Homo sapiens: one gene and its partners. The protein of the gene in region 3 purifies or fractionates together with the protein of the main gene of each other region. This does not show direct contact. Each region holds a gene or a part of one and is shown on either strand. Other genes may lie near its edges. The genes, in order: ACP3, MYO1B and DUSP21.

What was found.
Region 1: the proteins of DUSP21 (region 3) and ACP3 purify together in Homo sapiens (affinity purification with mass spectrometry; 2 studies listed by BioGRID and IntAct, with this or other methods). This does not show direct contact.
Region 2: the proteins of DUSP21 (region 3) and MYO1B purify together in Homo sapiens (affinity purification with mass spectrometry; one large-scale study listed by BioGRID and IntAct). This does not show direct contact.

Annotation. Positions count from the first base shown.
Region 1 is NC_000003.12:132,344,814-132,348,471, reverse strand, and holds part of ACP3 (prostatic acid phosphatase isoform PAP precursor), read right to left. Parts: intron 3,546-3,658; coding exon 3,413-3,545; intron 1-3,412. UniProt on the Homo sapiens protein: A non-specific tyrosine phosphatase that dephosphorylates a diverse number of substrates under acidic conditions (pH 4-6) including alkyl, aryl, and acyl orthophosphate monoesters and phosphorylated proteins.
Region 2 is NC_000002.12:191,412,819-191,416,476, reverse strand, and holds part of MYO1B (unconventional myosin-Ib), read right to left. Parts: intron 2,430-3,658; coding exon 2,297-2,429; intron 1,961-2,296; coding exon 1,808-1,960; intron 363-1,807; coding exon 235-362; intron 1-234. UniProt on the Homo sapiens protein: Motor protein that may participate in process critical to neuronal development and function such as cell migration, neurite outgrowth and vesicular transport.
Region 3 is NC_000023.11:44,842,446-44,845,471, reverse strand, and holds DUSP21 (dual specificity protein phosphatase 21), read right to left. Parts: upstream 1,452-3,026; 5' UTR 1,340-1,451; coding exon 767-1,339; 3' UTR 584-766; downstream 1-583. UniProt on the Homo sapiens protein: Protein phosphatase component of the sperm flagellar doublet microtubules. May act as a regulator of sperm motility by mediating dephosphorylation of sperm doublet microtubule proteins.

The DNA of each region.
Region 1 (3,658 bases), on a different chromosome or scaffold from region 3:
GGGGTGACTATCATGATTATCCTCAGGCTCTGGCATATCAATATTCTGTTTTATAGGGGAAACTGAGGCTTGGAGAGGCTCAGAAACTTGATTAGATTATACAACTTGCAAGCAGAGAAGGAGGGCTTTAAATCTAGCATGTCCTGTGTCAAAACCTTTATTTGTAATCATTAGAACATGCTATCGTGGAAAGCTAGCTTCAAAGTTATCTGTTGTATCCTTTATTAAATCTTCGTAAACTAGACAAAAATATCATTGACCTGAAGACATAAACTTTGCTTCCTTCATTTCTAGTCTACAGCAGAGGTTGGCAAACTTTTCTGTAAAAGTCCAGAGAGTAAATGTCTTAGGCTTTGTGGGTTAAAAAATCTGTTGCAACTACTCAGCTCTGCGGTGGTAGCATGAAAGCAGCAATAGACAATGCATAAATGAATGAGTGTGGCTGTATTTCAATAAAACTTTATTTACAAAACCAGGTAGTGGGCTGGATTAGGCATACAGGCAGTAGTTTGCCAACCTCTGGCCTAGAGCAAGAAGAGCTCTCTTTTCACTGATATGACCAGCCATATGATCCTAAATTTGCCCCAGGGATTTTTTTGGTGTGTGTGTGTGTGTGTGTGTGTGTGTATGTGTGTGTGTCTTACTGAACAGTGTCACCCCTGAAGTTAAATGATGAAATAAAAATTCTAGACTGGGCACAGTAGTTCATGCCTATAATCCCAGAACTTTGGGAGGCCAAGGTGGAGGATCGCTTGAGCCCAGGAGTTCAAGACTAGCCTGGGCAACATAAGGAGACCCTGTCTTTGCAAAAAATTTAAAAAAAATTTAGCTGGGCATGGTGGTGCATGACTGTAGTCCCAGCTACTTGGGAGTCTGAGGTGGGAGGATCGCTTGAGCCTGGGAGGTCAAGGCTACAGTGAGCCGTGATCATGCTGCTGCACTCCAGCCTGGAGGACAGAATGAGACCCTGTCTCAAAAACAGACACAAAAACAAACAAAAAATACAAAGAAACAAAAACAAAACAAACTAACAAAAAAACTAGCAAAGGTCAGAAGATGGCCCTGATGTGTCCACATTACTCTTTGTCACCTAGACAATGTGTGTTTTCTGTGCAGGAATGTGTGCAGCTGTTTCATCATTCAATAAACATGTAGTTGACAAATCTCTCTTGCCCAGCCAGATCTGAATAATAGTCTGAGCTTTTGTTTTGGCAGAACCACACAGGAGAAATTTTCCTGCTTAACAATGGCGCTGGACTTTTTCCAGAAAGCAGGACAGCTGGTTTCATACAAGTGCCAGCCTTTAGAATCCAAGATCAGAGAACAACTCAGAGAAGGACTCTTATAGACAGTCTAGTTTAATCTCCTCATAGGTAGTGAAACAGAGATCCAGAGAGGGGAAGTGGCTTCTCCCAAATGTAATCTTCTAGTAGGCAAGGGAAATAAAAGAGGAAACATGAGGAAAGTGGAGCAACTCCATTTCTTATTCATACATACACATCCCTACATCTACTATTAGACTACTGTCAACTCCTGTCTGGTATAAAGCATGTTGGGATTTTATTCAAATGCAGATCCTGATTCAACTCGTTTGGGAGTGGGGCCTGTGTTTCTAGCCAGGTGGTAGTTGATGCCGATGCTGAAAAGTAGACTGCACTTTGAGTTGTGAGGGACTAGGTGCCTGAATCCACCATAACTAGGTTGGGGGAAATAAATCAAGAGTCCCGCTTCCACCATTTGATGGGGCTTGCAACTGAGTCACACTGCTGGCACCTGGTGGGCCAGAAATGAGGCTGAGTGCTTATGTGGCTTCCAAGGCACCCTCTACATCTTTTGTTGTTAAGCACTTAAGATTGAGCTTCTTCCTGGGTTCTGCCCATAGACACAGTCTGTATCCCGCCTGGTAATTTTTTCCAACACTCCAGCTTCCATCTAAGACTCCTCTCTGGAGACTCTCCCTTCCTCAAGGCTGGATCTTGTTGCTCATGTGTTTAATGTGAAGTAAGGACTTGCACATTTCTATCAAGTCTGTCTCTGTGCCATGCAATCAGGATTTTTGTAATAGCAGATCTACAACAACCTCATGTCGTTAATGGCCACTGTCCTAAATTTTTTGCCCCAACCTACTTTATTCATCTCACATGAATTTGCTCCTGACCATCCTGGTTTCATACCTCATTCCCCTGGTTACAGCTTGCCTCACTCTTTATACCTGGTGTGCAGCCCTGCTTTTCTAGCTATAATTGATTCCTTTTCTGGTCAGTGATTTGAATTTTTTCCCTAGTTAAGTAGCCTCAGTGAACAACCTCCCAGTCTGGTCCAGCCCTAATATGCTTTGCCTCTATGCATTCTCTTGGGATTTTGATGGACTTGTCCTGATGCTGTGGTGAATAGTGTCTGTCAATGGCTGGAATCATGATGTGATTGTATTAATCTCAAAATGCCTTGAATATGTGTGTCAGCCTGACTTGGACCATCTCCTGTGGCTTGGACTTTCCTCATTACGTCAACCTGACATGATGAACTTTCTCTTCTTCTTTATCCCTAGTTTTAATACCTATGATAACCACATCTAAGTCTGACACCTCATTTGGTATCTTGGCCTGCCCATCCAGTTTCTCTCATAAGCCCCAACATCTGTCCTTGTCTTTGCTGGTCCTGACTTTTTTCTTCCATCCACTTATCCTGATTACAAGAATCCAGCATCCTCTTGCCTGGGTCTGCCTTCATATGACAGGGTGTCCTGTGCTACGAAGAGCCAGTTCTAACCAAGAAGAGGCATCACTGATAAATAAATCTCAACAGCTTTCAATGTCAATGAAAAATTTCAAGCTGTGTTATAAACTTGTCAATTGCAACATATTTTAACAGCACATAATTGGTCTGAAAAATATAACAATTAGCCTGAAAAATATATTTTATCGGCTTTCACAATGACTACCACTCAGGGTTTCAGGAAAACAGGCCACTTTTGTCATACCTCCCACTTGAAAAATTCATCATATAGGCCACAAGACACAATTGATTTTCATGTGGCTCAGACACAGATCCTTGATTTTTGATCTGGAGGGGATGGAAAGGATCATTTAGCTTTAGCTTTCATTTTCCAGATAGAAAACTAAGGGCTTGAGTGAGTAATAGTTATGATTATACTAACATATGACATTTATTGACAGTGTATTATGTACCAGGTACTGTTTGCTCTAAGCCATTTGAATACATACATTCATTTTAATACTCACTGTCTATGAAGTAGGTATCATTAATATCCCCATTTTGCAGAATGGAAGCTGGTGCAAGAGTGATTAAGTGAACTGTCTGAGATCACACAGTTGATTAGTGGAGGGAATGACTCAGACCTGGATCATTCAACCACAAATCCAATATGCTCCTCTCATTTTTTAATACTTACCCCCTTGGAGCCTAGATTTCTCTTTCTGCTTGTGAATTCCATAGAGGGACAGGAGGGACAATTCTGACAATTCTCTCAACTTAGTCATGGTGTCCTCAGTGGCCCAGGAGGGTAAAGTGAAATTGTGAACACTCTGTAGCAAAGAAAAAGGAAGAAAAATGTATGTGTATTTATATGACTGTCCTCTTTGTTGACTTATCCTTTTTCACCTCACAAGAACTAGTAGGGCCAGACTTTCTTGTCCTG
Region 2 (3,658 bases), on a different chromosome or scaffold from region 3:
TATCAACTATTTCATCATTTTATTTGTACATACTGGTCTCTTCCACTAGGATGTCAGGTACATGAGGTTGGAGACTTGGTCAGTGTCATTCACTGCCCATTTATCATGTGGAACAACTACTAGACACATACCTGGTACTTAATAAGTAGTTGTATTAATGAATGAGATCGAGAGCTGAACTAAAACAAAAAAGCTGAAAGAGAAAAAGGGTTTTCAAACAATACATGAACGTACTCATCGGAAATCTCAATATTGAGCTTCTGTTTGGTTTGGCTGAGAGTTGTGCGATAGAGCTTGGTGGCCATTTCAATCAGGTGATCACTGCTGAAGAGAAAGTCTCCTTTACTAGCTGCTTCTGAGCCCTGCAAGGACAAACCAAGAGTCGGTCATAATTAAAGATACCTTAGAAGGTCAATATTTACAGGCTTGGCTAAAAACATACTTACAGTCTCTTTAAAACATCAGATCCTGGAATCCATTCTCCCAAGGTAAACAATAATGACAAAAGCAGTGTTTCTTCCAACTTGCTCAGAGCACTTTAGTAAGGTTACCTAATCCCCTTCTACCTAAAGTCGGTGGATGCAGCAGAAGCACCATGTGCATCACTTGGAGCTTGCTAGAAAAGCAGAATCTCAGGCCCTACCACAGCCCCAGTGAATATGAAACCACAACGCAACCTCCAGGTATGGGTTTACACATTCAGGTTTGAGGAGCATGGACCTATCCCGCAACTCTTCTGAAGGACTTGATTAAAAAACTTTTCAGTGATTTGGTTAAAACCCTAATGACAACACTTCCAACAAATATCCTAGGGCAGTGGCTCTCAGCCTTAGCTGTGCAAGGGAATCATCTGGGTTTATTCAAAAAAAAAACAAAACAAAACAAAAAAAAAAACATGATGCTTGTGCCCCCTCTGAGAAATTCTAATTTGATTTCATAGGGGTATGGCCTGGGCATCAGAATTTTTAAAGTTCCCAAGCTGTTTACATGTGTCACTGAGGTTGAGAATCACTGTCCTAGTATTTGATATGCCCCCTTTAAGTTAAGATCCAAAGTAGGGTAAACAGGCTAAGGGAAGCTTTGGGGATTTTTCTAAGTTTAGGGTTGGCCAGAGAGTAACATTATTAGCTAGACACATGTCCCTACATATGATCAATATTTGTTAACTTTTGTTTATTCAGTGACTATGTGTTATGTGACAGGCCCTGTTCCTCCAGTGTCTCATTTAATCCTTAATCCTTACAACAATGCTATGAAGTAGGCACTCTTACTATCCCCATTTTAAAGATGAGAAAAAGTAGGTAGGCACACACAAATTAAATGCCTTGGCCAAAATTATCATAAAGTGAGTGAGACCAACTCCAGAACCTACATGTAACCACTGCATCCAAGCCAGGAGTCCTGGTTAAGCTAAAGGCACAGAACACTAAAAATTATTTAGGTTAAAATTAACTGGCGGTTATTTTATTTTAGTTGTATCCTTTAATGTAAACCCCCAGATTAGAGATGAACATTAAGACATTTACTAAGTTGATACATAGAAGAAAAAACAGGAGAAAACAAAATTTAAAACATCTTGATATTTCTATGTATTAGTCTCAAAAAGTAAAGTAAACTGGCCAATAAAAGTGATTAACTTTATTCAATTACTGAAAAACTGAGTCGGAGATTTTACATAGGGGTGAATATCCAAAATTTGCAAATTAGCAAGGCAGATATATAAACTGCGATAGGATTATCAGATATGGAAATTTTTTAAATCAATGGCTGAGAGATTAAGCACAGAAATCTTCTGTTGAACCTTTACCTCTTTGAGGTGGACGGCGAAGAAGCCATCATTTTGTGAGCTCATTGATACCTTGGTCACATCCACCAATGGAACCTCTGACTTGATTTGTCCAGACTTTTGGTCAGCAAGAAGGAGATTATTGTTTGTTAAGAGGAAAATCCGAGATGTACTCTAAATCAAAATAAAAAATAGTATAAAACCAATGATCACAAATACTCAAAAATGGTCCATGAGTTTAAGGCATTATTTGCAAAAATTCCAATATCCTTCAACAAACATACCTATGTAAACCAAGAACGCAGTAAAGAACATAAATAATATGTTTTATTTCATAAAAATGTCAGAGAACAAGCAAAATTCCACCTAAGCTTAAAGGTAAGGGGAAATAGCCGCCTTCATAGTTAACTCTACTGAGAACATGAAATGCAAATTTTTACATTCAGAAAACAGGGTGACTATCCCAACTAATAGGTACTTCTTATCAGTCTTCAAGGTTAGCATTTTTACCTTCCCATTAGCACGGTTAATTTTGTTCACGACTTCAGCAATGATGATCTTTTCTTCAATGGCATCTTTGAGTTTCTTATACTTGGGGTTCTTGTTGATTTCCAGGTAAGCCCCTTGGAATGGTTGCCCAACACTAAAGGAAAAAAATTCCTGCACATTAGAAATAGTTTCAAATGAAAGTACCACTAAAAAAAGGAAACAGGTCAGTTGATTCTAAGGAGTAGCTGACAACTTCATAAAAATTGATTTCAATTTATTTTATATATTACACTTACATCTGTCCTAAATATAAGTTGGAAATGAAACCTTAAACCTATTTCAAATACACTTTTGGGGTGATCATGGCATTTGGTGGGCAGGACTTTGATAATAATCTTATCACACGGAACAATCAAGACAGAAATCACTCATAAGAACAACAGCTAAGACTCAAGTACATGGCCTCATGTGAAGGAAAAGGCAATTTCTTCTAATCTGTTAATATAAAGTTAACAGCTGCTCACAAAGGATTTACTAACGCCTTCAAACAATATGTGGCAGTGAAAAGAGCTGAAATCATTACCATCACCTGCTCTAAAGAAAAATTTCATTTCTTGCAGAGAATAAGAAAATCAATAGGCCTTCTGGGAAAGAACAGATCCAGGGCAATCACTTTAGAAGAAAACTATAGAACACTTAATATTAACATGTAACTGTGGTTCTAAGTAGGCAATACAGATGGTCTCTGACTTGGTTTGACTTAGGGTTTTTCAGCTTTACAGTGGTGCTCATAAACCATTCTGTTTTTCACTTTCAGTACAGTGGTCAATAAACCACATGAGATATCCAACACTTTATTATAAAACAGGCTTTGTGTTAGATGATTTTGCCCAACTGTAGGCTAATGTAAGTGTGCTGAGCATGTTTAAGGTAGGCTAGGCTAAGTGATTGTGTTCAGTAGGTTAGGTGTATTAAATGCATTTTCAACTTATGATATTTTCAACTTCATATGACATATGACAACTTCATAAAAATTGACTTCAATTTATTTTATACATTACGCTTGCATCTGTCCTAAATATAAGTTGGAAATGAAACCTTAAACCTATTTCAAATATATTTTTGAGGTGATCATGGCATTTGGTGGGCAGGACTTTGATAATAATCTCATCACATGGAACAATCAAGATAGAAATCACTCATAACCCATATGATGGATTATCTGTGTGTAACTGCATCATAAGTTAAGCAGCATCTGTATATGAAAGGAGAATCAAGCCTCTTCTCCTAGAATATGCCTCTAAATGGACAGAAGTAACCAAAGCAAACATTCAGAATCAGGGCAATTTTTTTTTTCCCAAACAAACTAATTTTTGTAAAAGG
Region 3 (3,026 bases):
CCCTGAGGCCTGGTGTCAGGCCTGTTCTCTCTCAGTATATGCCCTGGGAAAAGGACTATGTCCCTTTTCACAAAGGCCGGTGGGAGATCACCAAAGACACCTTGAGAACTTGCCATCAAGTACAGCAGTCAAAAAAATACAATATTTTTAAACTTTATGGAGTGGAATGGTCTTTTAAAAAACTAGTTTTTTTTTTTTTAACTAATGTATAAATCCGATCTAGAAAACCAGAGATGGGCCACTGTGATTGAAGGTGGGCAAGGGTAGCCTGAGACTCCTCCAGAGCTCCTGGAGCACAGCTTGAATGAAAGCCACTTATCCACTAGGTTGGCACTTACTGGGAGAAGTGCAAGGGATGCCAAGATGTCTAAGGCTTTGACTTTGGGTTGGAAAGAACCGGGTGAGATTCTAGGGGATTCACTCCTGGGTTAGTCAGCCTCTGGCAGGGCTCAGGATTCCAGGTCTGCCACATGTATTGGGTGCTGCTGGCAGGTCTATGTGAGCTGAGCATTACTTGCCCCACCCTGGTTCCAGCCAGGCCCCAATAGCTTGACCTCACAATATAAAAAATATTTTCACTATCTTATGTTTCATGAATTTAATTCTATTAAGGTAAGGCTTACTACGTTCAAAACTCCAACCCCCTCCCTTTTTTCTTGCCCTTTAACAAGGCACCATCCGGTTTTCTTTACTAACAAAATGTCAGTGTTCAAGTTCAGTCTTGGTGCAAGATCGATGGCAGATGTCAGGGGCTGGCCGGGATGGCTTACATTGATATCATCATACGTAGGTCCTTCTCATAGATGTCAGGGATGTTACCTACCGGCGAGTTGATCATGCGCACGGTGTTGTTATTAAACAGCTTGAATTCGTAATTGATGAGCTGTTCCCAAAAGCCGTTGTTGGGCCGGATGATGGGGCGGCGCGACTTGGTCCATGTATGGGCGTCCAGCAGCGACATGGAGTGGTATTTCATGAGGTACGCAAGGCACAGTGAGGCGGAACGGCTCACTCCAGCCATGCAGTGCAGCAGCGTACGGCCCTGCCTCATATCGATGGTGTGGATAAGATCAGCAATGGGGTCAAAAAAGTCGTAGAGACGCGAGTCACGAGCATCGGTAACAGGCACCTTTATGTACTGAATGCCCTCGAAGAATACGTTGACCACTTCCACCGAGGCATTGACAATGGCGGTGATGCGATTGCTGGACAGAAGGAGTTTGTCGTTGGCGGCCACACCATTGCTGAGAAACAAGCTTCTGGTTATTTGGGAGAAGCTGTAGATGGAGGGCTGCTGGACACCCTGAGATGATGAAAAGGAGGACGCGGATGCTGTCATCAAGGCGGCTGGTCCGAGGTCTCTCTACGCTGGTTCGGGACACAACACTTACCAAGCTAGTTCAGGATAGCAGCCGCGCCGCCAAGTCTCAGGCTAGGTGTTGGAGAAAGAGGACCAGCTATCGGCCACCACCCTCTTTCTGTCTCCTCTCACCACTCCCATCTGGGCGTCACAATCCCGGACAGATAGCCCTGCGGCTCCGGTTTCCATGGCAATGGCCGCTTGCCGCAAGGAGGACAGGGCCTCTAAGCAGGGTCTTCAGAGACACCCCAGTCTCTTTTCTTTTTATCTTTCTTCATAGTCATTTATTTTCCAAGGCCTAATTCTTATCTTTCTTGACTTTTAAAAATGTTCTGTTACAAGATATCTATTTTATGTTTCAATTATTGGACCACGTTAAACAAGATCTATGAATACTTCTATTTCATCAGTGTTGCAGAACAGGGCTTACACTTTCCCTGCAAAATAGCAATATCACATTCTAAGTTGGGGAACAGCATTTGGCTCATGTGATATGCTAATCTCTATAAAACTGGAGCGAGATATGGGATTTGGCTGGGCTTGGTGGACTGGCCTGATACTTCTTTGTTGATTGTAACCATAAAATTATTTTCCTGCTTACAAACACATCAGGGCTGGTTGTAAGAGAGCATTGCTAACTGATATATAGCCCTTTATCTTGAAGTTGGCCTGTGGTGGACAGTTGTGACTAATTTAGCTGTGTCATAGTCCATTTGTACATACAGCTCAAATGACTTACCGCATGAGTCTATTTTATTACCTGAAACAACAGTTCAAATTATTTTGTTTACTTTCTTCAAAAAAAAATGCCTACATGCTTTGTGAACTACAAATCACTTTGACCACTACCGATGCTGTCTTCCCAGTAATATTAAACATTCTGAAACAAGTTAATGCTACATGGTAATTGGGCCAAAAATTGAGACAGTTTTGCTCTGTCACCCAGGCTGGAGAGTCCCAGGCCTCTGCTTCCTGGGTTCAAGTGATTCTTGTGCCTTAGCCTACCGAGTAGCTGGGATTACAGGAACGCACCACCACACCTGGCGAATTCTTGTATTTTTAGTAGAGACAGGATTTCACCATGTTGGCCAGGCTGGTCTCAAACTCCTGACCTCAGGTGATCCACCGGCCTCGGCCTCCCAAAGTGCTGGGATTACATGCACGAGCCACAGCACTCAGCCCAAAAATTAATTTCTAAAATGTAACCTGACATTTGCATTTCCTTCCAGCTAAGATTTTTATAGAATTTGGCTGAAAATTGAAAAGAACTATAGCCTAAAACTAACAAATTGTTTCACAGAGTAGCCAATTGACTCACATACTTTGCTCTCATTCCATCATCATTTTGGTATGTGTTCAAAGGTGTGCTGTGATTACGAACAAAGATGAAATAGATACCAGGCTGCTTATGATGGTCAAGGAAATGATAACCTCAAAACACAACACACGTTTCTTTTCTCAGTTGTCATAATCAAATTATTTTGCATTACTTAAATTGTCAGTCCCCACAAAGCTATCTGGAAGAAAATAGAACACGAATACTAAATAAATATGAAAACTGTTTGTTGGGGGCAGCTCAGCTGGGCTAACGGAGAAGCTTTGTAATCTATGTAGTAATGTGGAGGCCCTAAACTAGTATTGGAGTCTACTTATTTCATAAGTATAC